Linked DNA regions of Homo sapiens. The protein of the gene in region 1 purifies or fractionates together with the protein of each later gene. This does not show direct contact. Each region holds a gene or a part of one and is shown in the gene's direction. Other genes may lie near its edges. The genes, in order: GLDC, SRRT, GNAI2, SAFB, GTPBP1, ADD1 and DNAJC10.

Evidence for each region.
Region 2: the proteins of GLDC (region 1) and SRRT purify together in Homo sapiens (affinity purification with mass spectrometry, with the first as the bait; one large-scale study listed by BioGRID). This does not show direct contact.
Region 3: the proteins of GLDC (region 1) and GNAI2 purify together in Homo sapiens (affinity purification with mass spectrometry, with the first as the bait; one large-scale study listed by BioGRID). This does not show direct contact.
Region 4: the proteins of GLDC (region 1) and SAFB purify together in Homo sapiens (affinity purification with mass spectrometry, with the first as the bait; one large-scale study listed by BioGRID). This does not show direct contact.
Region 5: the proteins of GLDC (region 1) and GTPBP1 purify together in Homo sapiens (affinity purification with mass spectrometry, with the first as the bait; one large-scale study listed by BioGRID). This does not show direct contact.
Region 6: the proteins of GLDC (region 1) and ADD1 purify together in Homo sapiens (affinity purification with mass spectrometry, with the first as the bait; one large-scale study listed by BioGRID). This does not show direct contact.
Region 7: the proteins of GLDC (region 1) and DNAJC10 purify together in Homo sapiens (affinity purification with mass spectrometry, with the first as the bait; one large-scale study listed by BioGRID). This does not show direct contact.

Annotation. Positions count from the first base shown.
Region 1 is NC_000009.12:6,635,730-6,639,229, reverse strand, and holds part of GLDC (glycine dehydrogenase (decarboxylating), mitochondrial precursor), read left to right. Parts: exon of another isoform or gene 1-105; intron 106-3,500. UniProt on the Homo sapiens protein: The glycine cleavage system catalyzes the degradation of glycine.
Region 2 is NC_000007.14:100,878,103-100,881,602, forward strand, and holds part of SRRT (serrate RNA effector molecule homolog), read left to right. Parts: intron 1-2,593; exon of another isoform or gene 2,594-2,667; intron 2,668-3,182; coding exon 3,183-3,311; intron 3,312-3,500. UniProt on the Homo sapiens protein: Acts as a mediator between the cap-binding complex (CBC) and the primary microRNAs (miRNAs) processing machinery during cell proliferation.
Region 3 is NC_000003.12:50,239,204-50,242,703, forward strand, and holds part of GNAI2 (guanine nucleotide-binding protein G(i) subunit alpha-2), read left to right. Parts: intron 1-3,500. UniProt on the Homo sapiens protein: Guanine nucleotide-binding proteins (G proteins) are involved as modulators or transducers in various transmembrane signaling systems.
Region 4 is NC_000019.10:5,661,083-5,664,582, forward strand, and holds part of SAFB (scaffold attachment factor B1), read left to right. Parts: intron 1-435; coding exon 436-726; intron 727-2,939; coding exon 2,940-3,077; intron 3,078-3,314; coding exon 3,315-3,357; intron 3,358-3,500. UniProt on the Homo sapiens protein: Binds to scaffold/matrix attachment region (S/MAR) DNA and forms a molecular assembly point to allow the formation of a 'transcriptosomal' complex (consisting of SR proteins and RNA polymerase II) coupling transcription and RNA processing.
Region 5 is NC_000022.11:38,704,613-38,708,743, forward strand, and holds the start of GTPBP1 (GTP-binding protein 1), read left to right. Parts: upstream 1-1,331; 5' UTR 1,332-1,343; coding exon 1,344-1,535; intron 1,536-4,131. UniProt on the Homo sapiens protein: Promotes degradation of target mRNA species. Plays a role in the regulation of circadian mRNA stability. Binds GTP and has GTPase activity.
Region 6 is NC_000004.12:2,899,344-2,902,843, forward strand, and holds part of ADD1 (alpha-adducin), read left to right. Parts: coding exon 1-92; intron 93-3,500. UniProt on the Homo sapiens protein: Membrane-cytoskeleton-associated protein that promotes the assembly of the spectrin-actin network. Binds to calmodulin.
Region 7 is NC_000002.12:182,757,757-182,761,256, forward strand, and holds part of DNAJC10 (dnaJ homolog subfamily C member 10 isoform 1 precursor), read left to right. Parts: coding exon 1-69; intron 70-1,080; coding exon 1,081-1,134; intron 1,135-1,403; coding exon 1,404-1,551; intron 1,552-3,500. UniProt on the Homo sapiens protein: Endoplasmic reticulum disulfide reductase involved both in the correct folding of proteins and degradation of misfolded proteins.

The DNA of each region.
Region 1 (3,500 bases):
TTCAACACTGCCTTCTTGGCCTTTAAAGCATTCTCTTTGGCTTCGGCTTTAGGAGGGGCAGGAGCTTCCTTCTTCGCTTTCGGCGCCATCTTGTGAAAAAGCTCTGTTTTTGTCATTAATTCTCAATAGGCAGATTGGACTGTCACCTTGTTGCCTAATTGTTAAATGTTTACTGACTACTATTGAAAGACACTCTGAGGATATACTTTTTTTTTTTTTCTGAGACAGAGTCTCGCTCTGTTGCCCAGGCTAGAGTGCAGTGGCACGGTCTTGGCTCACCACAACCTCTGCCTCCTGGGTTCAAGCGATTCTCCTGCCTGAGCCTCCCGAGTAGCTGAGACTACAGGCACGCACCACCATGCCCAGCTAGTTTTTATATTTTTAGTAGAGACGGGGTTTCACTATGTTGGTCAGGCTGGTCTCAAACTCCTGACCTCGTGATCTGCCTGCCTTGGCCTCCCAAAGTGCTGGGATTATAGGCGGGAGCCACCGTGCCCAGTGAGGATATACATTTGAATAAACATAGTCACTATCTCCAAGGGGCTTACATCTTACCTTCTTAATATAAATAGATCAGACAGACAGTTAAAAAGTTCTAGGTGCCATGAAAGCTGTGGGTAAAATGTCATGAGCGTTCAGAAATGATGTGAAATGGGATGGAAAGACAGAGTTAAGAGTTGGAATATATCTTCTCAATGTAAAGAAGCAAAGATGAAGCTGGGAGCAGTGACTCACGCCCATAATCCCAGCACTTTGGGAGGGCGAGGCGGGTGGATCATCTGAGGTCCGGAGTTCAAGACCAGCCTGACCAACATGGTGAATCCCCGTCTCTACTAAAAATACAGAAATTACCTGGGCGTGGTGGCGCATGCCTGTAATCCCAGCTACTTGGGACGCTGAGGCCGAGGCAGAAGAATCGCTTGAACCCGGAAGGTGGAGGTTGCAGTGAGCTAAGTCGCGCCATTGCACTCCAGCCTGGGCGACAGTGAGACTCTGTCTCAAAAAAAAAAACAACAAACAAACAAACAAAAACTCAAGCAAAGGCAGTACCTTCACTGAGAAAAAGGAAATGGAGAAATGCAATGTGCAAGACATAATTCGGCAAGCACTTGAATGTTGTTGCGGGATCATCCCTGATGGAATCTTAAATAATTATGCTATCAATTATTTGGGGGATATTCAGATAAATGTCGAAGTATATCATGGTAAAAGTGGAGGGGTGAAAATATTTGTTTTAAAAGTGATGAGATTACAGGCTGACACCTGTAATCTCAGCACTTTGGGAGGTTAAGGTGGGTGGATTGCTTGAGCCGAGTAGTTCAAGACCAGCCTGGGCAACATCCTGTCTCTTTGAAAAAAAAAAAGTAAAAAAAAATTTTTAATGTGTTGAGTCCTAAAATAAATTATGATCAGTTTTTCCTTTCTTATTAAAATTAGAATCCCAAACTAGAAATCTCAGTCTTGGCTGGGCACAGTGGCTCATGCCTGTAATCCTAGCACTTTGGGAGGCTGAGGCGGATGGATCACTTGAGGCCAGGAGTTCAGCATCAGCCTGGGCAACGTGGCAAAACCCTGTCTCTACTAAAAATACAAAAATTAGCTGGCTGTGGTGGTGCATGCCTGTTGTCCCAGCTGCTCAGGAGTCTGAGGCAGGAGAATAGCTTGAACCTGGGAGGTGGAGGTTGCAGGGAAGAGAAGGTTGCAGTGAGCTGTGATTGCGCCACTGCACACCAGCCTGGGCGACAGAATGACTTCATCTCAAAAAACAAGACAAAACAAAATTAAAAAACCCTCAATCTTGATAAAGTATCTTTTTTTTTTTTTTGAGAGAAGTCTCGCTCTTATCCCCCAGGTTTGAGTGCAATGGCTCGATCTCAGCTCACTGCAACCTCTGCCTCCGGGGTTCAAATGATTCTCCTGCCTCTGCCTCCCAGGTAGCTGGTATTAAGTCACCTGCCACCACGCCTGTCTAATTTTTGTATATTTTAGTAGAGACGGGGTTTCACCATGTTGGCCAGGCTGGTTTCGAACTCCTGACCTCAAGTGATCCGCCTGCCTCGGCCTTCCAAAGTGCTGGGATTTTCCAAAGTGCTGGCATTACAGGCGTGAGCCATTGTGCCCGGACTTTTTTAAAAAAAAAAACAAACAAAACCAGTTCTGCTCTGTCACCCAGGCTGGAGAGCAATGGCACGATCTCGGCTCACTGCAACCTCCGCCTCCTGGGTTCAAGCAATTCTTCTGCCTCAGCCTCCCGAGTAGCTGGGATTACAGGCACCCACCACCACAGCCAGCTAATTTTTGTATTTTTAGTTGAGATGGGCTTTCACCGTATTGGTCAGGCTGGTCTTGAACTCCTGACCTCAAGTGATCTGCCCGCCTCAGCCTCCCAAAGTGCTGGGATTACAGTCATGAGCCACTGTGCCTGGACTATTTTGGGTTTTTTAATTTTATTTTTGAGATGGGGTCTCACTCTGTTGCCCAGGCTGGAGTGCAGTGGTGTGATTACAGCTTACTGCAGCCTCGACCTCCTGGGTTCAAGTGATCTCGCACTTCAGCCTCCTGAGCAGCTGGGACTACAGGCGCATGCCACCATGCCCGGCTAATTTTTGTATTTTTTCTAGAGACAATCTTACTGTGTTGCCCATGCTGGTCTCGAATTCCTGGGCTCAGGAAGAAATCCTTCCGACTCTGCCTCCCAAAATACTAGGATCATAGGCGTGAGCCACCTTGCCCGACCAACTTTATTTTTTAGAGCAGTTTTAGGTTCATGGCAAAACTGAGTGAAAGCTACAAAGATTTCCCATTAAACCCACTGCCTCCACACAAGCGTAGAGTCTCCCATTATCAGCATTGCCTACCAGAGCATTTGCTACAATTGAACCTACATTAATGCATCATTATCACCCAAAGTGTTTTTTTTTTTTTTGAGACGGAGTCTCACTATGTCACCCAGGCTGGAGTACAGTGGCACGATCTCAGATCACTGCAACCTCCGCCTCCTGGGTTCAAGCGATTCTCCTGCCTCAGCTTCCTGAGTAGGCGAGACTACAGGCATGAACTATCACGCCTGGCTAATTTTTGTATCTTTAGTAGAGACGGGGGTTTCACCATGTTAGCCAGGCTGGTCTTGAACTCCTGACCTCAGATGATCTACCCACCTTGGCCTCCCATAATGCTGGGATTATAGGTGAGCCACTGCGCCTGGCCTCACCCAAAGTGAAGATTGTTTACGTTAGGATTCAGTCTTGGTGTTGCACATTCTAGGGGTTTAGACAACTGTAGTATAACATCTGTTCATTATTATCATTTTTATTTTAAAACATTTTATTTTTATTTTATTTTATTTATTTTATTTGAGACAGTATCTTGCTATGTCACCCAGGCTCGACTACAGTGGAATGATCACAGCTCTGTGCAACCTCGACCTCTCCGGCTCAGGCAGTCCTGTCACCTCAGCCTTCCAAGTAGCTTAGACCACAAGGAGAACCACAGCACCTGGC
Region 2 (3,500 bases), on another chromosome or scaffold:
GGAATTTGAGACCAACCTGGGCAACGTGGTGAAACCTGTCTGTACAAAAAAATACAAAAATTAGCTGGGGGTGGTGGCACATGCCTGTAGTCCCGGCAACTCCGGAGGCTGAGGCGGGAGGATGGCTTGAGCCTGGGAGGTGGAGGTGGGAGTGAGTCTTGATGGCACCACTGCATTCCAACCTGGGCAACAGAGAGATACCCTGTCAAAAAAAAAAAAAGGAAATTAAAATTTTGGAAAACTTCTACTAATGTGAGCTTGACAGCTTCCCATTAAGTAAAGACTTTCTTGGTGAGATAGGCAGTGATGCTGATGAGTACATTTTGATATTGGGTGAGACATAATCCAGGTCCATTGAAAGGGAAAGATAGAACAGTGGATTTTAATGCAGCAGAGAAAGAAATATTCACTGATACTATTTCAGATTGAAGGTTCTAACTAGCCTGTGAGAAACTACTTCCTTCTTGGACAAGGTAGCATAAAGAAAAGAAAAAAAAGAACCTACCTCTTGTTGAATTTTGGGTAGTATCCAAAATGAATATCTACAGTTAATCTGAAAAGGCCTTTCCAACTCCTTATCAGTATGAGGCCTGATTTTCTGTTTTTTTTTTGAGACGGGTCTTACTCTGTTGCCCAGGTTGGAGTGCAGTGGCACGATCATGGCCACAGATCACTGCAGCCTTGACTTCCCCAGGCTTAGGTGATCCTCTCACCTCAGCCTCCTGATTAGCTGGGACTACAGGTGTATGCCATCACACCCAGCTAACCTACTTTCTTCCTTCCTTCCTTTTCTTTTCTTTTCCTTTCTTTTCTTTTCTTTTCCTTCCTTTCTTTCTTTTTCTTTCTTTTCTTTCTTTCTTTCATTCTTTCTTTCAGATGGAGTCTCACTCTGCCCAGGCTGGAGTATAGTGGCGTGATCTGGGCTCACTGTAACCTCCATCTTCCGGGTTCAAAACGATTCTCCCACCTCAGCCTCCCGAGTAGTTGGGATTACAGGTGCCTGCCACCACGCCCGGCTAATTTTTGTGTATTTAGCAGAGACAGGGTTTTGCCATGTTGGCTAGGCTGGTCTCAAACTTCTGACCTCAAGTGATCTGCCTGCCTTGGCCTCCCAAAGTGCTAGGATTACAGGCATGAGCTACCACTTCCAGCCAGCCAGCTAAGTTTTGTATTTTTAGTAGAAAGGTGGTTTCACCATGTTGCCCCAGCCTGGTCTTGAACTCCTGGGCTCAAGCAATCCACTGCTTCGGCCTCCCAAAGTGCTAGCATTCATTACAGATGTGAGCCACCATGCCCGGCCTGCCTCATTTTTCAAGCAGAACAAAATATCTCAACAGATTCAGTGTAGAAGCTATCCTCTACAAAGCCAGAACTTGGAGAGATTGGTGACAATGTAAAAACAATGCCACTTTTTCTCACCAAAATTTTTCTGGAAAACGATTTTTCATAAAAACATGTAATGTGTTTCATCTTACTGTGTAATTTAAAAATGAAGGTTTTGGAACATTTCGTTTTAATTTTGAATATAGTAAGTATCGATAGATGTAACCCACATAAGCAGAAACTCTTTGGTGTCCTCAGTCATTTTTAAGAGTATTAAGGGGCTGAGGCAGGAGAATTGCTTGAGCCCAGGAGGCGGAGGCTGTAGTGAGCCGAGAGTGATTGTGCTGCTGCACTCCAGCCTGAGCGACAGAGTGAGACTGTCTCCAAAAAAAAAAAAAAAAGAAGAAGAAGAAGATGAGGATGGGGGAGGCTGGTGATTGGTTGGGAGGTTGGTGACTGGTGGAGAGGCTGGTGACTGGTCGAGAGGCTGGAGTGACAGCCAGGAGCCCAAGTTAAAACAATAGTGTTGCTTACTGACATTGAAGTAACGGTGTGATGTGATGAGACTTGTGTTTGAGGAAGGTCTGCCTGCCAGTGGGGAGACAGAAGCGAGAGACCAGAAGCAGGCGGGCAGCCAGGGCTGCAGGAGCCACACTGGCCAAGGACAAAGACTAGGACAGGGTGTGTGGGGATGGCAGAGAGTGGGACAGCTTTGATAGGCTTTGAGGCAGAGGATTAGCAGGAGCAGTAATTAGCGGTGAGGGTAGTGAATGACAGCTGGCGAGAGATGCTGTTCCGTTGATACAGCAGAGTGGGGAGCGGGAGGAGGAAAAGACATTTGGGCCCATAGTGGTGGGATGAATAGGCTTGATTCTTTTTTCTTTTTTTGGTGGGGGGGATGAAGTCTTGCTCTGTCGCCCAGGCTGGCTTGCAGTGGCGCGATCTCGGCTCACTGCAAGCTCCGCCTCCCGGGTCCACGCCATTCTCCTGCCTCAGCCTCCCGAGTAGCTGGGACTACAGGTGGCTGCCACCACGCCTGGCTAATTTTTTTTTGTATTTTTAGTAGAGACTGGGTTTCACCATGTTAGCCAGGATGGTCTCGATCTCCTGACCTCGTGATCCGCCCGCCTCGGCCTCCCAGAGTGCTGGGATTACAGGCGTGAGCCACCGCACCCGGCTGAATAGGCTTGATTCTGACAGGCTGAATTTGAGGGGGTGATGGACTTCTAGTAGGGGATGATTTTTAAAAAGTTTTCTGTTTTATTTTTAGAGACAGGGTCTCCCTCTGTCACCCGGGCTGAGTGCACTGGTGCAGTCGAAGCTTGCTGCAGCCGCGACCTGCCCGTAAGTGGGCCTGTAGCAGGGGTGATTCATGTGGGTCTGGAGCACAGGCGGAAGGCCAGGCTGGGAGAAGAGTTGGAGAACCATCAGTTCTTGGGTATTGGCTGAACTCATGGAGTTAGACAAGAATCTTTGTTTTGTTTTGTTTTGAGACAGGGTCTCTGTTGCCAGGGCTGGAGTGCAGTGGCTTGCCCTGACTAGAGAAAAATCTTTTTCTGTTAGGAGCGAAGTTTTATAATTGTAGGCTTTTTAGTCTGGTATCTCAGGGTGTAAGAAGGGCCTGTTTAGGAATGTGGCTGTGGCATATCCAGCTGTATCTTTAATTATTGTTACCTTTTTAAAAAATAAAAAATTTTTTGTAGGGATGGCGGGGGGCGGGGGGGGGTCTCACTATTGCCCAGGTTGGTCTCGAACTCCTGGCCTCAAGTGTTCTCTGCCTCGGCCTCAAAAGTGCTTGGATTACAGGCATGAGCCACTGTGCCTGGCCTTTAATCTTTGTTACTTGTTCTTACTGCCAGAGAGTGGGACCGTGGCCGTGAGCGCCGTAGTCGGGGTGAATATCGGGACTATGACCGGAATCGGCGAGAGCGCTTCTCGCCACCTCGCCACGAACTCAGCCCGCCACAGAAGCGCATGAGGAGAGACTGGTGAGATGGAGCGGTTTCCCTCTCCTCCCCTTTGCCTCAGTTCCACCTGGGCCTCCCCTTTCTCCCCTCACCTGTGCCTAAATCTTTGTCATTTCCTTTTCTCAACTTCCCATCACCCATCGTTACTTTGTCCCTTGAAACCCTTGTCTGGGAGACCATGCTGTGTGTACCCCCGTCTGTCCATCCTCC
Region 3 (3,500 bases), on another chromosome or scaffold:
CTGTGTGGACAGCTTCACAAAAAAAGGAGACAGTGTCCACCATTGGCTCCATAAAGGCTTCAGAATGTAAACAGAGCAGTTCTCTCTTGCCCCTGGAACTTTGTGTGTGTTGTTCCCTACTTGATTGTTCTTTAAAACTTTACTCTGGGATCACCTCCCAGGATCCTTCCTGGACATCCTCCCTCGACCAAGGCTGGTGAAACATCTGGCTCCCAGCGCTGTTGCTTCCCCCCTCAGATGCCTGGAGACTGCAGGGCAGGGCTAAGTCCTCTTCATTTCTGTGCCCAGCATGGAGCCTGGCATCTACTGGGTGCTTCTCATCTGTTTGTTGAATGAAGGAAGTATCCTCTGAACCTGATTTTGGGTAGATGGTGGAGTAAACTGAGCGGCAGTTTGCATACTGTGGGCAGGTGGCAAGGGCCCACAGGCCCACCACAGGATTGGTGACCAGCATTGAGGGGACACTGAGAAAAGTTCTTCAGGCTGTTTCTTCCCAGCCCCGCCACAGGCTATGCTGGCACCTGAGAGAGTTCTTATCCCACCCTGTGCGGAACTCCTGCTGAGCAGAGTGGCTTTGTATTCTTCCTTCCAACTCAGGCTGTTGGTGCACTGCTAGAGGGCTGCTGTCTCTGACACTGCAGTAGCCACAGTCGAGCTTGAGCTGGCTGGTCCAGCAGGGGCTGCTCCGCAGCCCTGGGGCTCAGACCAGAGCAATGCTGTGAGAGTCCTGGTACTGGCCAGTGCAGAGACTGCACATAGCAAGGGCTCAATGAAGTTTACCAAAAGAAAAGAAAGGGGGTTTTGTGGCCTCTGTCCTGTCTGTGTCTCTTGCAAAGGGCTGGCATACTATAGATGCCTAATGAGGGTATATGGACAGAATGAAGTGATTGAACATGTCCATGAACAGGGCAGAGCTCCTGGGAGAGGAGTAAGTATAATCCTGGGGCAGCCACTGGAGCCTGGTCTAGCTAGAGACAGATAGGAAGGGTTAGCTTGGGATTCTGGCTGGCTGGGTAGTGAGTTAGACTCTAATGGTGCCTGTGAAGGGGGGCTTCCTGGAGGAGGGGGTCTGCTGGGCAGCTGTGAAGGATGAATACCATTTGCCAGGGCCAGGCACTGGGGGTCAGAGGGACCAACTCGACAAGAACACTGCAGCAGGAAGACTTGGCCTGTATTCCCAAGAGCTTGGGTGGGTGTTTCCTGGCCTGGTGGGGAAAGGGCCACCCTCCCTGGACCAGCCCATGGGGTCATCCAGACCTGAGTTCGAATCCCAGTTCCACCTATGGCACTGGCTGAGAGACTCAGCATCAGGTGAAGCCCTGGCAGGAGTCCTGCTCTCCACTCATAACCTGGGGGCAGAGTGCCTCCCTGCAGCCACAGGTTATGGGGACAGTCTACCAAAGCTTGGAGGTATGAAAAATGGGTGAGGGAGGCCAGGCGCGGTGGCTCACACCTATAATCCCAGCACTTTGGGAGGTTGAGGCAGGCAGATCACCTGAGGTCAGGAGTTCAAGACCAGCCTGGCCAACATGGTGAAACCCCGTCTCTACTAAAAATACAAAAAAATTAGCCAGGTATGGTGGTATGTGCCTGTAATCCCAGCTATTCGGGAGGCTGAGGCACGAGAATCGCTTGAACCTGGGAAGTGAAGGTTACAGTGGACCGAGATGGTGCCACTGCACTCCAGCCTGGGGGACAGAGCAAGACTCTGTCTCAAAAAAAAAAAAAAAAAAGAAAAAAAAAGAAAATGGATGAGGGACCCACTGCTGAGAGTTTGGTGGGAAGGAGTCTCCCATCCTAGAGGCTGCCTGGCCTGGGTTTGGAGCCCTAGGGAACCCCCTCCCCTGCCCTCAGGCAGCTGTTCACAGCAAGTGGGGAGCCCAAGGCGTGCAGATAGTTGGTGCCAGCAGGAGTGACAGACTGCCCTGGGGACCTTAGGCCCAACCTCTGGGGGTCTAGGTTTGGAGATGTGGTAGGGCCCTGGGTGCCAGGTGGGCCAGTACCCACCCAGGCTGGCCTCCAGCCCCTACACTCTACCCCAGCCCTCTCCTTCACTGCTGGAGCTCATTAGCACTTGAATGGGGGGCGGGGCGGCTTGGGCCTCTGAGTCTCTTCTTCCCACCCCTCCCCCAGGCTTGTCGGGGCTTTGTCTGCAGGAGCAGGCAGGGATAGAGCTCCCACACTAAGGAGTGAACAGGGGTCCAAGCTATAGCTGACCCCCTCTGCCTGCATCCTGCCCAGTTCTGCTAGGCTCAGCCCCTGCCTCTCACGCCAGTGTCAGTGCAGCCAACATGAGGTCATACCTCTAGGGTAGGAGTGAGACTAGGTCCTTTAAGGGATACCTCTGAGCTGAGAGACTAGGTGAATCAGGGCAGCTGGAGCTCAGCTGGGGGCATCCCAGGCGGGTTGGGGAGAGGAACCCCAGACAGAGGGCAGAGCAGGTGTGAGGACAGAGAGAATGAGCCGCGCTGCTGTGGCAGGAGGTGGAAGTCAAACCAGTTGCGGGACACAGGCTTCCATGTCAGAAGCCCTGAGGCAGCATCACACCACCCACTATGTGTCAGAGCCTAGGCTGCTGGATGGGGCCTGGGGATGGTCCGGGACCCCTTTGGCCCTGGGCAGCTTGTCAGCGGTTGGCCCTGGGTGGCCTGAGAGGTAGGGTCACTGAGTGCCATCACTGATGTCCCAGGCCCTTGAACATCAGTTTGCCTGGCAAGTGGCAGCAGGTAGTGCTGAGGGTGGGGTGTGGTCAGGTCCCAGCAAGGTCCCTAGGCCTCCAGCACTGCAGGGGGTGGGGCAGTAGGTGCACTTGGGGCTACTTGGGCCACAGGCAGACACACAGGTCCTGTATACTCTGCCGTTGATCTTAGTTCTTGGTCCCTGGCTGTGACTCTCTCAGTCTGTCTCTAAAAGCCACCCATTCACTTGGCGGGAACAGGATGGAGGAAGCTTTGTCCACCCAAGCTCTTAGCCACTGAGGAACCAGGGACTCCCCCCACCCCACCCACAGCAGAGGAGGAGACTGTCACCCCAGAGCCTGAGTGCTGCCTCCCCTACATCCCGTTGTGCTGTGGGGGGAGGCAGGACCGGGCAGATGGGGGCAAGGTACAGGCCAGGGAGTAGTCTCATCTTCCCAGCATCTCAGGCCAGGAATCCCAGCCTAGGAGTTGAGCGAGGAGGGGAAGGGGTCAGCAGGTTCTGGCCAGGCCACTGCTGATACACCCTGCCTAAGAGTGCTCTGCAAGGTGCTTTGGGGAAGGCAAAGGATTGGGCCCTTTGATGGTGTCCCTGGTACCTGATGCTCTCAGGCAGCCCTTCCCTCAGCTACAGGTGCAGGGTGGAACCCCGTCTGCCCAGCCCCACCCAGCCCTTCTAGCTTGAAGCTCTCGTTCTTACTAAACCCCAACCCCACCCTCACCCTGATGTTACTTCTTGGGGCTGTGGCTGCTCTTGGTGGCTGGGGAGGAAGAATCTTTCTGGAATAACCAAACATTTGCTGG
Region 4 (3,500 bases), on another chromosome or scaffold:
AGCTAATTTTTGTATTTTTAGTAGAGACAAGAGTTTCACCATGTTGGCCAGGCTGGTCTCGATCTCTTGACCTCATGATCCACCCACCTCAGCCTCCCAAAGTGCTGGCATTACAGATGTGAGCCACCGCGCCCGGCCTGTTGCTTATTTTTGACTGGCTGTTTCCTGAAATCACTTGTCAAGCTCCAGGAAATGTTGGAGAAAGGAGGCCCAGTTCTGATCACACACACACAGCCTGGGCCTCACTCCTGAGATCTTCCTGGGCTGCTCCTGTGGGCCCGAGAAGCCTTCTTCCCGCTGGAGTGTACGGTTCTGCAGACCACGTAGTGGACGCACAGCCCTGGAGTCTGTGCGACCCAGCGTCTTACTTAAAGTCAGCCCTGGGACCTGGCTGGGGGTGTCTAGGTCCCCTTCTGCAGCTCTACTGTTGTGCAGCAGGGTGCGTGAACGCAGTGAACGCGAACAACGCATGCAGGCGCAGTGGGAGCGCGAGGAGCGTGAGCGGCTGGAGATTGCCCGAGAGAGGCTGGCCTTCCAGCGCCAGCGGCTGGAGCGGGAGCGCATGGAGCGGGAACGGCTGGAGCGCGAACGCATGCACGTGGAGCACGAGCGCAGGCGCGAGCAGGAGCGCATCCACCGTGAGCGCGAGGAGCTGAGGCGCCAGCAGGAACTGCGCTATGAGCAGGAGCGGCGGCCCGCGGTGCGGCGGCCCTACGACCTGGACCGGTAAGCAGATCCATGCTGCCCTTAGCACGTGGCGTTCAGAATCGTGTTAGGGACCTCACAGTCCAGTTAGCTTGAGATTTTTTTTTTTTTTTTTGAGACGGAGTCTTGCTTTGTCGCGGAGGCTGGAGTGCAGTGACCCGATCTTGGCTCACTGCAAGCTCTGCCTCCCGGGTTCACACCATTCTCCTGCCTCAGCCTCCCGAGTAGCTGGGACTACAGGCGTTTGCCACCTCTCCCGGCTAATTTTTTTGTATTTTCAGTAGAGACGGGGTTTCACTGTGTTAGCCAGGATGGTCTCTATCTCCTGACCTCGTGATCCACCTGCCTCGGCCTCCCAAAATGCTGGGATTACAGCTGTGAGCCACCGCGACCGGCCAGCTTGAGATCTTTCATTCAAAGGAAGCATAGGCCGGGTGCGCTAGTTCACGCCTGTAATCCTAACATTTTGGGAGGCCAGGGTGGGCGGATTGCCTTAGCTCAGGAGTTGAAGACCAGCCTGGCCAACATGGCAGAACCCCGTCTCTACTAAAATACAAAAAATTGGTCGTGGTGACAGGCGCCTGTAATCCCAGCTACTGGGGAGGTTGAGGCAGGAAAATCGCGTGTACCCAGGAGGCAGAGGTTGCAGTGAGCCAAGATCGTGCCACTGCACTCCAGCCTGGGCAATAGAGTGAGACTCGGTCTCAAAAAAAAAAAATTAGAGACAGGAGGCTGGATAAAGTAGTGCTGGTTAACTAACCAGGTTCAAGGGTGGCACAGACCTCCTGAGGAGGGAAGCTCAGGCACGTAGAGAGCGCCACACGTGCCCTACTGCACCTCCTTTAAGGCCCTTTCCTTTTTTTTTTTTTTTGAGATAGAGTCTCGCTCTGTTGCCCAGGCTGGAGTGCAATGGCGCGATCGCTGCTCACTGCAACCTCCACCTCCTGGGTTCAAGCGATTCTCCTGCCTCAGCCTCCCTAGTATTCGAGATTACAGGCACCCACCACCACACCCGGCTAATTTTTGTTTTTTTTAGTAGAGATGGGGTTTTGCCATGTTGGTCAGGCTGATCTCAAACTCCTGACCTCAGGTGATCCACCCACCTCAGACTCCCAAAGTGCTGGGATTACAGGCGTAAGCCACCACCCCCGGCCTTGTCCTGGCTTTTTAAATCCATTGTAATTTGTTTTTGCTTATTCTAGAAATAAAGAATTAAAAAAAAATTTTTTTTTGAGACGGAGTTTTGCTTTCGTTGCCCAGGCTGGAGTGCAATGGCGTGATCTCAGCTCACTGCAGCTTCCGCCTCCTGGGTTCAAGCAATTCTCCTGCTTCACTCTCCCAAGTAGCTAGGATTATAGGCATGTGCTACCACACCCGGCTAATTTTTTGCATTTTTAGTAGATACCGGGTTTCACCATGTTGGCCAGGCTGTCAAACTCCTGACCTCAGGTGATCCACCCACCTTGGCCTCCCAAAGTGCTGGGATTACAGGCATGAGCCACTACGCCCGGCAGTAAGATTAATTTTAATTTCTCAAACATACTGAAGAGGAGGTATGAACACAAAATGCTGAGCATGGCTGCTGTGAGGAGTCAGGTGTGTAATTCCAGCAGTGATTGTGTCAGGCTTTACACGTGCACTGCAACCTGGCAAAAATTGCTGTTTGTTGTTTCTTTCTATTGCATGGGTTGAAGAGGAGCCCAGGTCATATATACAATGCAACTTCTATAAAGGGCCTTGTAAACTGTTCTAGGATCTATTATGCTTTGGTACGAAATCCTTCTGATGACAGTTCATTATGGTCATCTGTGTATTGCAGCAGTACATGGCCAGGGCTGCTGGCAGGGCAGGAGGTCAGCTTTGGGGCGAGAGAGATGGCAGGTGCACTTGACAGAGCCCCTCGGGGTGGAGGCTCACGTGGTCTTCCTGAGCGGAGGTGGCTGTGTAGGGCTCCAGAAGCCATCTGCAGGCAGCCCATAGGACTGACTGCTTAACTAATGGCTCCCTCTTTGGAAAACCGAGGCCGCTTTTCATCAGGGGAGGTGGGTGCATGGGACAAAACAAAACAACTGTGCAGTCACTGGGGTCAAATCAGACCTTGCCTCCTATAGGAGAGAACACTCTTGGTGAAAGTCATCCTGGTTCTGTGAAGTGCTAGGGGCCAGCTCCCACAAAGGTGATAGATACATTTGGGGTGGGGGATCCCTCTATCTCTGTCTCATGTCCCCTCACAGGCGAGATGATGCCTATTGGCCGGAAGCCAAGCGGGCCGCCCTGGATGAGCGCTACCATTCTGACTTTAACCGCCAGGACCGCTTCCACGACTTTGACCACAGGGACCGCGGCCGCTACCCCGACCACTCGGTGGACAGGTCAGTTGGGCCCCTGCTGGGCGTGCGGGTTTTCTTTTTCCTGGCTCATTCTGACTGAGAACAAGGACTCCTGGGCTCTCTGAACCCACTCCGTTCATCAGATGTATGCTGAGTCAGACCCGCAGGTCTCCTGCCTTCAGTTAGGGAAATTATGCTTTTCATTGGGGGCCTGATGGTCCTCTCTTTGTGAACAAGCCTCTTCTTCCCCTTACGGTTTGATTTAAATTGCCTTTTCAGGAGAGAAGGTTCAAGGTCAATGATGGGAGAACGAGAAGGACAGGTAAGTCTGAAGCTACAGTGGTAGCCACAGAATTTCCCATAGAATGGGTTCTTTTCCCTTCAGCGTGCCTTCTTCCTGCCCTTTCTTTGAGCAAGAGGCAAAATGAGGAAAGAGAAAAGTAAAGCACTAGAAAAGTCTAGGTT
Region 5 (4,131 bases), on another chromosome or scaffold:
TGAGCAATTTGGCAAGGAAGAAATTAAAAAGCACATAAGAACAGTATCAAGACCATTGGAATCAGATGACTTCCTGTCCAAGATTCCCAGCTGTGTTTGTGCAAATAAGACTTGATAGTAGTGGAAAACAGGGACAAGAAGAGACTGTCTCTTTCTTCTCAGGTAGATCCCCAAAACTGAAAGCCATTTTCAATCCTGCCACTTGCTCACTAAAGATTTAGGGTTTAGGTCCAAACCCTAAGTCTTGGATTCCTTATCTTCTCAAACATGCTCTTGTTTGCTTGATGCCTGGTTCGAGTGGCCAAGGCCGACATTCATAGACGTTGGTTAATCCCTAATTTCGCCAAACAATGACGGCCTAGGCTTTTCCGGCTTTTGAAACAGGAATTCAAGACACTAAAACGTGTGTTGATGGCATTTTGGGTTGGGGCTTTTCACAACTGATGACACTGGAAAAATAATCCATAGGAAACTACCTTATGAGACCCTAGATTTCGGTTTAGCAGTTCACCACAAAAGTGGTGAGGTGTTTTTTGGCTTTTAATTTTAGCTGCTTGCCTCTGTTTTTAGTTCGTGTGATTGCCTCCGCAAAGGCAGTGAATGGAGAATTCTCCCTAAGGTCAGCATTTAATTATTGCCTCACTCTGGCTGCTATAGTATTACAACTCTTGGAACTTACAGCATCGATCCTACTATTAAAGTTGCCTGGAGCATGCCAGCACGTTGGACATCGGCGTTCCAGCAACTGCCTCAGTCACTGAATCGAGTGGGAGGCTCATTTTGCAGTTTACTATCTCCATGAGCAGGTCCAGGCGCGGGACCTGTTCTATGACTCGATTGGGTCCTGCCCTTGTCCGTCATCGGAAGGCTTACAGCGCCTACTGTTTTGCAGTAAGATTTGCAGGCTTAGTACCGCCTCTGGAAACAAGGAGAGTGAAGGGGCGTTGACGAGTAACGTTGTTTGTATTTCTCTCCTCATTGGATGGCTGCTGTGTCAGTCAGACACTTCTCTGCTTCCGTTGGCGGGAAGGCTTCAGGCGGGTAGCGGGGACTCGGTACTGCCCCCTCCCAAGCTGGGAGCAGGGCGCGTGACGTCTCAGACATTTGTTGTTGGGATTTGGGCCTCATTAATTATTCATTAGGTACTTGAAAGCTCTGCAGGGATTGGTGGCTGAGAGGCCTAGTCGACTGTTTCTTAGCTAGAGGTACGTGTCACCCAGTACGCGGCTGGAGTTTTGCATAAATTATTCCGATAAGGAGCGGGGCGGGGCTCTGTGCATAGATTAGTCAAATGAGCCTGGGAGGGAGGGAAGCCGGCTACGAATTAGCCTAAGTTATTAAAGATGGCGACGGAGCGCAGTCGCTCCGCGATGGACTCGCCGGTCCCGGCCTCTATGTTCGCCCCCGAGCCCAGCTCCCCGGGGGCGGCCAGGGCCGCGGCGGCCGCCGCCCGACTCCACGGCGGCTTTGACTCGGACTGCAGCGAGGACGGCGAGGCGCTCAACGGCGAGCCAGAGCTGGACCTCACCAGCAAGGTAGGCCCGGGCGGCGGCGGCGGGCGCTGAGGGGAGCGGGCGGCTGGCCGAGCAGTCTCCCGGGCGACGGCGGGGCCAGCGGCCGCCCTGTCCGCGGGGAGCGCGGAACGGGAAGAAGGGGCCGAGCCCGCCCACCTGCTAGTCTCCGGGACGTGCGGGGGTTCGCGGCGCGAGGGGCCGTCCCCATGGTCCCCGCACCCACCTTGGCTCCCCCGCGTCGCCAACCCAGCCTCCCGCCCTCCCGTCTCCCGCCGAGATCGTAACCCCTCGGCTCTGCCACGTGGAACGGGGGCGCCCGATGCCAGCTGCGCTCCGCGCGTTCCCTGTCCCCGCTCAGTGCCCCTCCCCGTTCTTCGGGTCCCCACTTGAGGGGATTCGGAGACCGAGAGTCTCCTCTCCCTGGACCGCGCGGGACAGCAGAGGGGCGAGGGGGCCCGGGCAGGGGGCCGAGACGCTCATGAAGACAGGTAGTCGGAGGCCAGGGCAGGGTGGCCGCCGCGTCTCTTCCCAGACTCGGGAAAGGAAACAGAAAGTAGTCGCTCAGCTGGGGAGGAGCATGTCCGAGAATGTCTACTTTTCGAGGCCACCCGAAACAAAATGGAAAGATGGTCAGGCTCCTTAGTCTCGCTATCCTGTGAGTGGAAGCTCATCTTGTATGAGTGGAGCAGTGAAGGACGTTTAAAACCGTGTTTTTTGAGCTGTCGAGAAGGTAGGCAGGAATTAAGGCCTCGCCAACGGCTTGACATTGTGAAGAATAGAAAAGTAAATACAAGATGTGACTGGTGTTTTGAAGGTGCTTAACGTTCCTTAGGGAAAGAATGCCAACTTGGGAGTCAGACAGGGCTGGGTTCCCTTTCCTGCCCTACCATCGAAAGGCTCTGTGACGTTGGGAAAGTTTCTTAACCTTTCAGTTCTCCAACCACCTCATCTTAAGAAAGTACAGATGGGTTGTAAAAATTAGAAATATTTAAGAAGACACCTAATAGTGCCTGATGCATACTAGAGACTCAGTAAATGTTTGAAGTGAACGAGATAGTTCCTAATTTCCTGTGCAGATTAAATAGCAGTGGGTGAAAGATAGAACACCAATACCACCACTTACATTTGTAGGATAGTTACGATAGACATTTTATCCAGCTTTGAAAATGTTTGTGACTTTTTATAGTTTATGGCGGCAAATTTGCATGAAACTTGGTCCTAAACTGGGGAGGAACTTTCCCTGCAACCTAAGCAAGTTATTTTCAACTGCTCTTTGCCATTGTAGTCTCAGGTGAGCACTTGGAAGCCAGCTAGCCTGTCAAAGTTGGTCCTGTCTTGTGCCTGTAAGGCCATAATGAGGATGGCCAAACTTAGAGAGAGGGATGGCCAGGACGATGTAAAAGACCCAGGAAACATCCAGGTTACAATTACAAGCTCTGATGAGTCAACTCAGGAAGTTACAAGATTATGGACCTGACTCAAGAGCAAACAAACTGGATGTCAACACATGGTCAAGGTGCTGAAGAAACATGATAGGAAATTGCAGGGCAGAGTTGCAAAGACGGTAGTACCTTCATTTCTTGACCAGCTCATTTAATATTCCTAGAAGTGTTATTTCATCACATAGCTGGGGAAGTCCTCCTTACAATTAAAAAAAATCATATGTATATTAATATCGATGATATCAAAAAGAAAAAGTGATGGTGTGGAGGGAGAGAAGGGTTGGGTTGAATAGATTGATTCCGGAGGAACAGATTAGAAGCGAAAGGTTCATGTCCTTACGATAGAAAATGTGGAGACCTAAGGCTCCGAGAGCTTCCAAAGGGAGAAACACTTAGTGAATAGTGGTGGCTAGTTTCATCCAACAAGGTTTTTCTGGGAATGATTGGGTGAAGAAAACCTTGTAGTTTCACATTTATTGAGCTGTGGACTAGATGCTTTACATGTTATTATATTTGCTCTTTACAGTGGCCTTAGGATGCAGGTAGTATTAGCTCCGTTTTATAGATTGAAAAACTGAAACTCAGAGTGGTTAAATTCTTTGTCCAAGGTCACACAGGAGTGGTTAGAGAATGGGGTCTGATTGCCAAATGGCTTACCCAAGTAAATGGTTGACACTTCAATGTTATTGGCAGACATTTGCAAAATGACGGTGCTAATACTCCTCGTAGTGGTAATGGTGATGGTGCTTTGTTGATGAAGATGAGTCTTGCAGGCAGTTTTCATTCCCAAATATTCAATATAGCTAAGACAAGATAGAACAGAATTCTTTTGTTATCCTGGAAGCCACTGGCCTGTGGGTGGAGGGCATGGAGGTATATGAGGTATATGTCTTGTGGGCTTCCAGATGCCAACTGCAGGTAGAAGACTTTGGCATGTAGATGGAAAGCACTGCGCTTTCTATCCACAGTGCCATATTCTCAGTCACTTGGGTCCTGCCCTTCCTGTTAAGCAGCAGGAGGCAGGCTGCTTGTGCCCTCTTTACCATGGGTTATGGCTCAGACATACACATTGTAGTATATTATTTGGCTCATATAAGGCCTGAGGCTCAAAGGCTACTTCAGGAGAAGCAGAGAGGGCATGAAGGGGCTGTGCAGCCTTTTTAGATGAGGGTGCT
Region 6 (3,500 bases), on another chromosome or scaffold:
GGTCTCCGGTAGGGGAAGGCACTGGATCGCCTCCCAAGTGGCAGATTGGTGAGCAGGAATTTGAAGCCCTCATGCGGATGCTCGATAATCTGGTAAGAATGGTGCCACCACTTGATGATAAACCTTTTGTTCTAAAAGCATCAGTGTTGGTGTTCTTACAGCAAGTGCGATTGCTGTCTTTTATGCAGTATCTGAATACCTTCACCTTCAAAGTCATGAAGAAGCACTAGGGTTGTTTAACTTCTGAGGTAAATTACAATAAAATGTAGAGGTGAAGGATTCCTGGTATTGTTTTATTTTTTAAAGATAACCTTGTGTTTGGACTCAGTGGGGACAAGAGCACAGAGAATGCGTAGGCAGCTGGATGACCAGCTGTGTCAGCTCAGTCCCCACCATCCCACAAGCAAGCGAGAGAGGTGGCACTTTTGAAATCGGTCAGTCAGGTATTTAGGCTTTTGTCTTAACAGCAAATCCTGGCTGTCTGGGGCCTGATGACTGTGTTCCATGGGTATCCACTCCCTGTCCACAGCGTGGGAGCCCCTCAGCTGCTTATTGCAGGGACACAGAGCCCGGCATGGTCCAGAAGGCGGGCTTATGGGGCCTGCAGCACACAGGGAAAGTGAGCCCACACTGTGATAGGAGGGCAGACACACAGGATGTGTTCTGTGTTACAGGGTTGCCGTGAAGAATTTCATTCTTTTGCAAGGACTGGAGAGAAAATTTTATGTGGAAGGTAGCCCTTGGAAATGACCTCAAAGAATAGGTAGGATCTTAGCCTGCGTTTGAAAGCCTGGAAAAAAACAGGATGACAGGATGAAGAGGCCACAGCACAGCTGCAGACAATGGGAGTGGGGAGATGGGAACATGCAACGTACGGTGCACCTTTCAGGTTCATCTTGACTTTACCAGGATCATTAAATACTCAGTTCTTAGAGCTGTATTAGAACACTGCCCTTGGGGTCTCAGTCCCGCAGCCACATCATCAGACACAGGGCTCTGGAACAGATCCCTTCCATGCTGCACATCAGACCTCTTAGATGGGGGTCACGATGGTCCGTCCTAACGCCACATGACCTCAAGTGGTGTAGATGTGAGGACATGTCAGTGTGGGGAAAGAAGGCCTCAGAGGGGCCAGTATCCTTGTATGCTGCCAGCCAGTACTGGACAAGTGGGCACGTTCCAGCCTAAGACAGGCGTGGCCCTTGGACCAGATCACAGATGAGATGGGTGGCTTCAGGAAGCAGGGTGGCTTCAGGAGGCAGGAAGTTTAACTTTCCTGAAGGTTTGGAATAAAAAGTATTCATAGGTCTGATTCAGGCTATGTTAAATGTTCTTACTGAAATTCTTTGCACTTGGGATGAATATTGTCCGCTAGAAAGGAGGAACTGAGGGTTTTCTGCCTGGGCGCGATAGTCAGTCAGTGGAGTAGACTCAATCAGTGACACAGGGACGAACAGAGAAGGCAGAGTCTAGCGTAACTTTTTGAGTTCATATAATCAGTGAGGTTGATTGCATTAATTGACTGTCTACTGTTGAGTCATGAACAGGACACAGTTCTTGCCCTCAGGAGTTTATGACCTAATAAGAGAGATGGACAAACGATTCCCAAATGAGCCCTGCCCCTGTGATCTGTGCAGTCATAGGCATGATGAGAGCTTGCAGGCAGAGGTGGGTGCCGATTGGTCAAGGAGGTAGGAAGAGGAGCAAAAGCTCATGAAGAAGGCTGAAGAAGCAGTTAGAGTTGGGTGGCCAGCCAGGGTAGTGAAGCTGCAGGGACTCATAGATGGAGAAAGCTTGAGAGTGGGGCAGCCATGGCCCAGGTGTGCGTCAGGAGCCAGGTCATCCAGCATGGCTGTGCAAGGTAAGGAGGGCTGAGGTTGGCCCAGTCACACAGCCCCTGCCTCCTGGTAAATACGGCGACATTTTGCTGCTCTTCTACTTACAGTCAGTGTGAGGGAGGAGAGAGGGGGGTCAGAATGCACAGCAGCCACCAAAGACTGTGCTGAAAGCACATCCTAGAAGGCGGAGAGGGGGAAGTCAAAATCAGGTAGAAACTCTGATTTGGTAGGGAAGGAAGATAAGGATGAATGATTAATAAGTAAAACATTCATTACAAAAAGCATGATGAATGTTTACTCAGTGTCCTTAATGTGTACAGATTGTTTTAATATTAGAAGGCCATATAGTTTATAAGAAATAAACTAGACAGCAATCACTAATCATAGTCCATGTTTTAATTTAGCATCGGGGTTGGCATATATGTTGTTTGCTAATAACTGAGTAGAGAATAGTTGCCAATTTCCACACTATAATATATGTTGCAGCCGAGCACAGTGGCTCACTCCTGTGATCCCAGCACTTCAGGAGGCTGAGGTGGGAGACCAGGAGCTTAAGACCAGCCTGGGCAACATAGCGAGATTCCTCTCCACAAAAAATAAAAAAATTTCAAAAAGAGAGATAATATTTCATTTGAACTTCTACAGTTAGAAAAAAAATGCTAAATTGTCCCCCCCCCAAAAAAAATCAAGATATAATTTCAGTTTCTCAAAGAAGGAACAAATCCATATATATTTTCTCTTTCTTTTTTTTTTTGGAGAGACAGGATGTCATCATGTTGCCTAGGCTGGTGTTGAACTCCTGGGCTGAAGCAGTCCTCCCACCTCAGCCTCCCAAAGTGCTAGGATTATGGGTGTAAACTACCACGCCTGACCCAAATCCATGTTTTTAACTACAAGCCAGATAGTAGTTCTGAGGTCTGAGTATTACTTCTGGTTTTGGTTTAACAGCATTTAAAGGGGAAGAATAAAGAAAAATCCATATGGTTTCAGGATAAAATGATGTTGATGAGTCCTGGGTGGTTTATTCTGAAGTTGTGGAGATTACTGAGTTCTGGCTCTTTAAGCAAAAGGAAACTTGAATTAATAAGAACTGTGTTTTTCTGCAGATAGTCTTTATGGCAGAGTCATTCTCTTTTATTATTCCTCAACAAAGCATGCTCAGAAATGGGAAAACTGCCAGTACACACATTTACCTTATCTTTCTGAGGACAATTATGAAAATAAAACCCAAAACAACTCCATTCATGATTGTTATTACCTTTTTAAAAAAATGTAGGCCGGTCACGATGGCTGATGCCTGTCATCCCAGCACTTTGGGAGGCCAAGGCAGGTGGATCACCTGAAGTCAGGAGTTCAAGACCAGCCTGGCCAACATGGTGAAACCCCTTCTCTACAAAAATTAGCCAGGTGTGGTGGAGGGTGCCTGTAATCCCAGCTACTCGGGAGGCTGAGGTAGAAGAAGCACTTGAACCCGGGAGGCAGAGGTTGCAGTGAGCCAAGGTCGAGCCACAGCACTTCAGCCTGGGTGACAGAGCAAGACTCCATCTCAAAAAAATAAAAGGAGGCCGGGCGTGGTGGCTCATATCTATAATCCCAGCACTTTGGGAGGCTGAGGCAGGTGGGTCATGAGGTCAGGAGATTGAGACCGTCCTGGCTAATACA
Region 7 (3,500 bases), on another chromosome or scaffold:
GGAAAACGTTCAAAGATACCCTGAGATAAGATTTTTTCCCCCAAAATCAAATAAAGCTTATCATTATCAGTAAGTATTCTCTCATATTTGAAGACATTTATTATAATTATTTAATTATACACTTAACAGTTAAGTTACCTGAACAAAATAAAAGTTAACCCAACAAATATTTATTGGGAGCCCACTACGTAAAGATAGTTTGTTAATGAACATTTCAGAAGATGAAAAGGGAGTATTGAACAGTCTCACTGTGCATAAAGCTTATAGTCTAGACAAAAAGATAAGGAAAGGAAGAGCTAACATTTATTAAGTCCTTAAACACCTTATTTGGTTTCAGGTACTATATTAGATACTTTACTCACCTTATTTCCAATAATCCTCACATATGCTCTGTGAACTAGGAATTACTACCCTTCCTACTATTACAGAGAAGTAAACTGTGATTCTCAGACCTTAGAATCCAAGGTCTAGGAGTTATCTAAGGCTTAGATAACTTCCCCAAGTCACACAGCTGCTAAGTTGAAGTTGAGGTTTGAACCCAAGTCTGTCTCAGCACCCATGCTGTTTCCACAACACCACGTGGTATTTCAGGTAGAAAACTCAAATGTAAGGTACATATGATGAATGTTATTAAACAAGTAAAAATGAACCATGGATTTCAAGAGAGGAAAGGGTCACAACTATGAGGAAATTATGAAAGGCTGCATTTTGTAGGTAGTTTTTGACATGTGTCTTTAAAAATGGGTAGGAATTTGACAGACAGTAATAACTTGAATAAAGATTCAGAAACTAAAACCCTTGGACATTCTGAGTTTCGCAATTCCCATAGGTCTACAGGAGATGTCCAGTAGACAGCTAGACATTCTGGGCTGTCTGGGGCACAAAGATACCAAGACTAGAGAAAAATACATTTGTGAGGCCTTATAACCAGAATTTGTAGCTAGGTATATTTGAGAAGAGAGATACCAGATGAAATCAATCAATATAACTTATTTTTTAAATTGCTACAATAAGATTGTTTTCTGAATACATCCAATAATAGAGAATCCTATTTACAACTAACATTTTTTCTTCTCTCAGCAGTTACAATGGTTGGAATAGGGATGCTTATTCCCTGAGAATCTGGGGTCTAGGGTGAGTAATTAAAATATATATCATTGTATAAAATAGATTCAAAGCCATTTACCCCCCTTTTATATCAATAGTTAAATTTACTGTGGGTTAAGGTTCTAGCATTTTAAATTACTTAGTAAAGTATTATATTAACCAAGATAGTACTGTACTTTATTACATTGCCCTTCCTTGACATCATTTTTAACTTAGAAAGTATTACAATATTATTGCATTTCATATGTTTGCTTTGGTTTTATATAATGAAAAATGATTTTGATCATTTGCCACAGATTTTTACCTCAAGTATCCACAGATCTAACACCTCAGACTTTCAGTGAAAAAGTTCTACAAGGGAAAAATCATTGGGTGATTGATTTCTATGCTCCTTGGTGTGGACCTTGCCAGAATTTTGCTCCAGAATTTGAGCTCTTGGCTAGGGTAAGTCATACCTGTCTTAAATAAGTTGTAGCCACATTCATGTTTTAGTAATTAGATAAAACATTGTAAGTATGTAATTTTTAGGTTTTTTTCTTAAATGTTTCCTCTGAATTTAAAAATAGCTATTATATTTCTATGACTGTAATGGTTGTAGTAGATTTCCTCTTTCTTTGTTAAAGCTTTTAGCTAACATCTTCTCTATCTTGGTAGACATCATCATCTACTAGCCATAAAAGCCAGAAACGTCTCTTTCTTCTCCCTCTTGTCTACTTTCTCCTCCCCACCCCAGTACTCTGTTGCCCTCCAGGCAGTTACTAGATTGTGTCAGTTTTATCCCCTAAATGTCTTTCAAATGTCATTTCTTATTCATCTCTACTGCTAACCTGTTTCTTCAACCCTTTATCATCTCTTGTCTAGACTTAACCATATTTGCCTTTTAAGTGCAGTCTTCCCTTGATATACTCAGGGGATTGGTTCCAGGAACCCCCATTCCATACCAAAATCTGTGCAGCTCAGGCCTCACAGTGGGCCCTCTGTATGCAGGGTTTCACATCCTATGACTATTCTGTTTTCCATCTGCAATTGCTTAAAAAAAAAAATTCCCAGTTCAAGCAGTTCAACACAGTTCAAGCCTTTGTTGTTCAAGAGTCATCTATGGTATTATACTGTCTACCTTTGTCAGTGCTGCCCTGGTGATCTTCTAAAATATTTCCCTCTCTGACTTACTAAGTTTCTTAATATGCATACATTGACTTCAGGTGTCTGATATGAGCTCTATCTCTATTGTCCACCTCACACCTTAGATTCCAGTGTAACAGAGTACTCCAGGTTCTCTGAACATGTGTCCTTATTTACATGCCGCTCCCTCTCTCTAAAATGCTCTGTCCTTACCTTGGTCATCTGTATTTTTTCTCCTCTTACTGCAAAACTCAGCTCCGATGGCACTGCTCTATTCTCTGCCCTTCTCAGTTAATCAGTGTCACCTGGATATGTTATCAAGTGTACTGATACAGTGCATATTAATTCTTTATTTATTATTACTTGAAAGATATTTAATTTGACCAGAAATAAAAGGAGCTGGATACCAATGGAAATAATTAGTTGTAGCAATTTTGGGTTTTGTTCGGTTGGTTGGTTTTATTTTTCGGTATAGCATTGTCCATCTTCCTTTGTAAATGGCTGTCTCTTCCTGAGGGCAAAGTCCATGTTTTATTTATTTTTATATCCTCAGGGCCTAACTCAGTAAATGCTTATATAAAATTAAACTGAATACATACCCTCAATGCAGTCTGAGCTTTTGGTGTTTCTTTCTGTCGTAACAGTCTTATTAGTGACCTAATCCAGATTGATAGCTTTCTTGCCTCCATAACTCGAGGAACTCTTGCCACTAGTGTTGGTATAAAACACTCAACTGGAATGAGAAAGTCAGCTCCAGTTCCACCAGTTCACACTAAAGCTTAGCATCCCAGGCCATGGGAATTTTTTAGCAGAGGGATTTTAAAGGTCTTACTAGCTATAAAAGATTATTTTTGTTATTAGCTGGTGCATCAGATAAGAGGTTTATTCTTTCCATTCTAATCTTCTTATGCTTCCTTCTGTAATAATTCTGCTTTACTCCATTTCTCATGTACTAAAAACTTTAGTTATAAACTTTGTAATGCAACTCTATATTGTATCTAGTAGAAAATTATTAAACATGAAAAAGACCATTTATTCAACAAATTTTAAGTACCAAATGAAAAGCCATTATGCTAAGTAGTAGGGCCACGTAACTCCACATGAAAGAAAAGGAAGATGAAAAGAAAGAAATTCCATGTCTTTAAGGAGATTTTAATCTAGTGGAAAGAGAAAATGGAAATAAATATAAGTAATACAAGATAATTGCTACAGTAAAATTAGAATGAAGCTGGAACAGGGGTAGAAGGGTGTCAGTGATGCCAGAGAAGGAT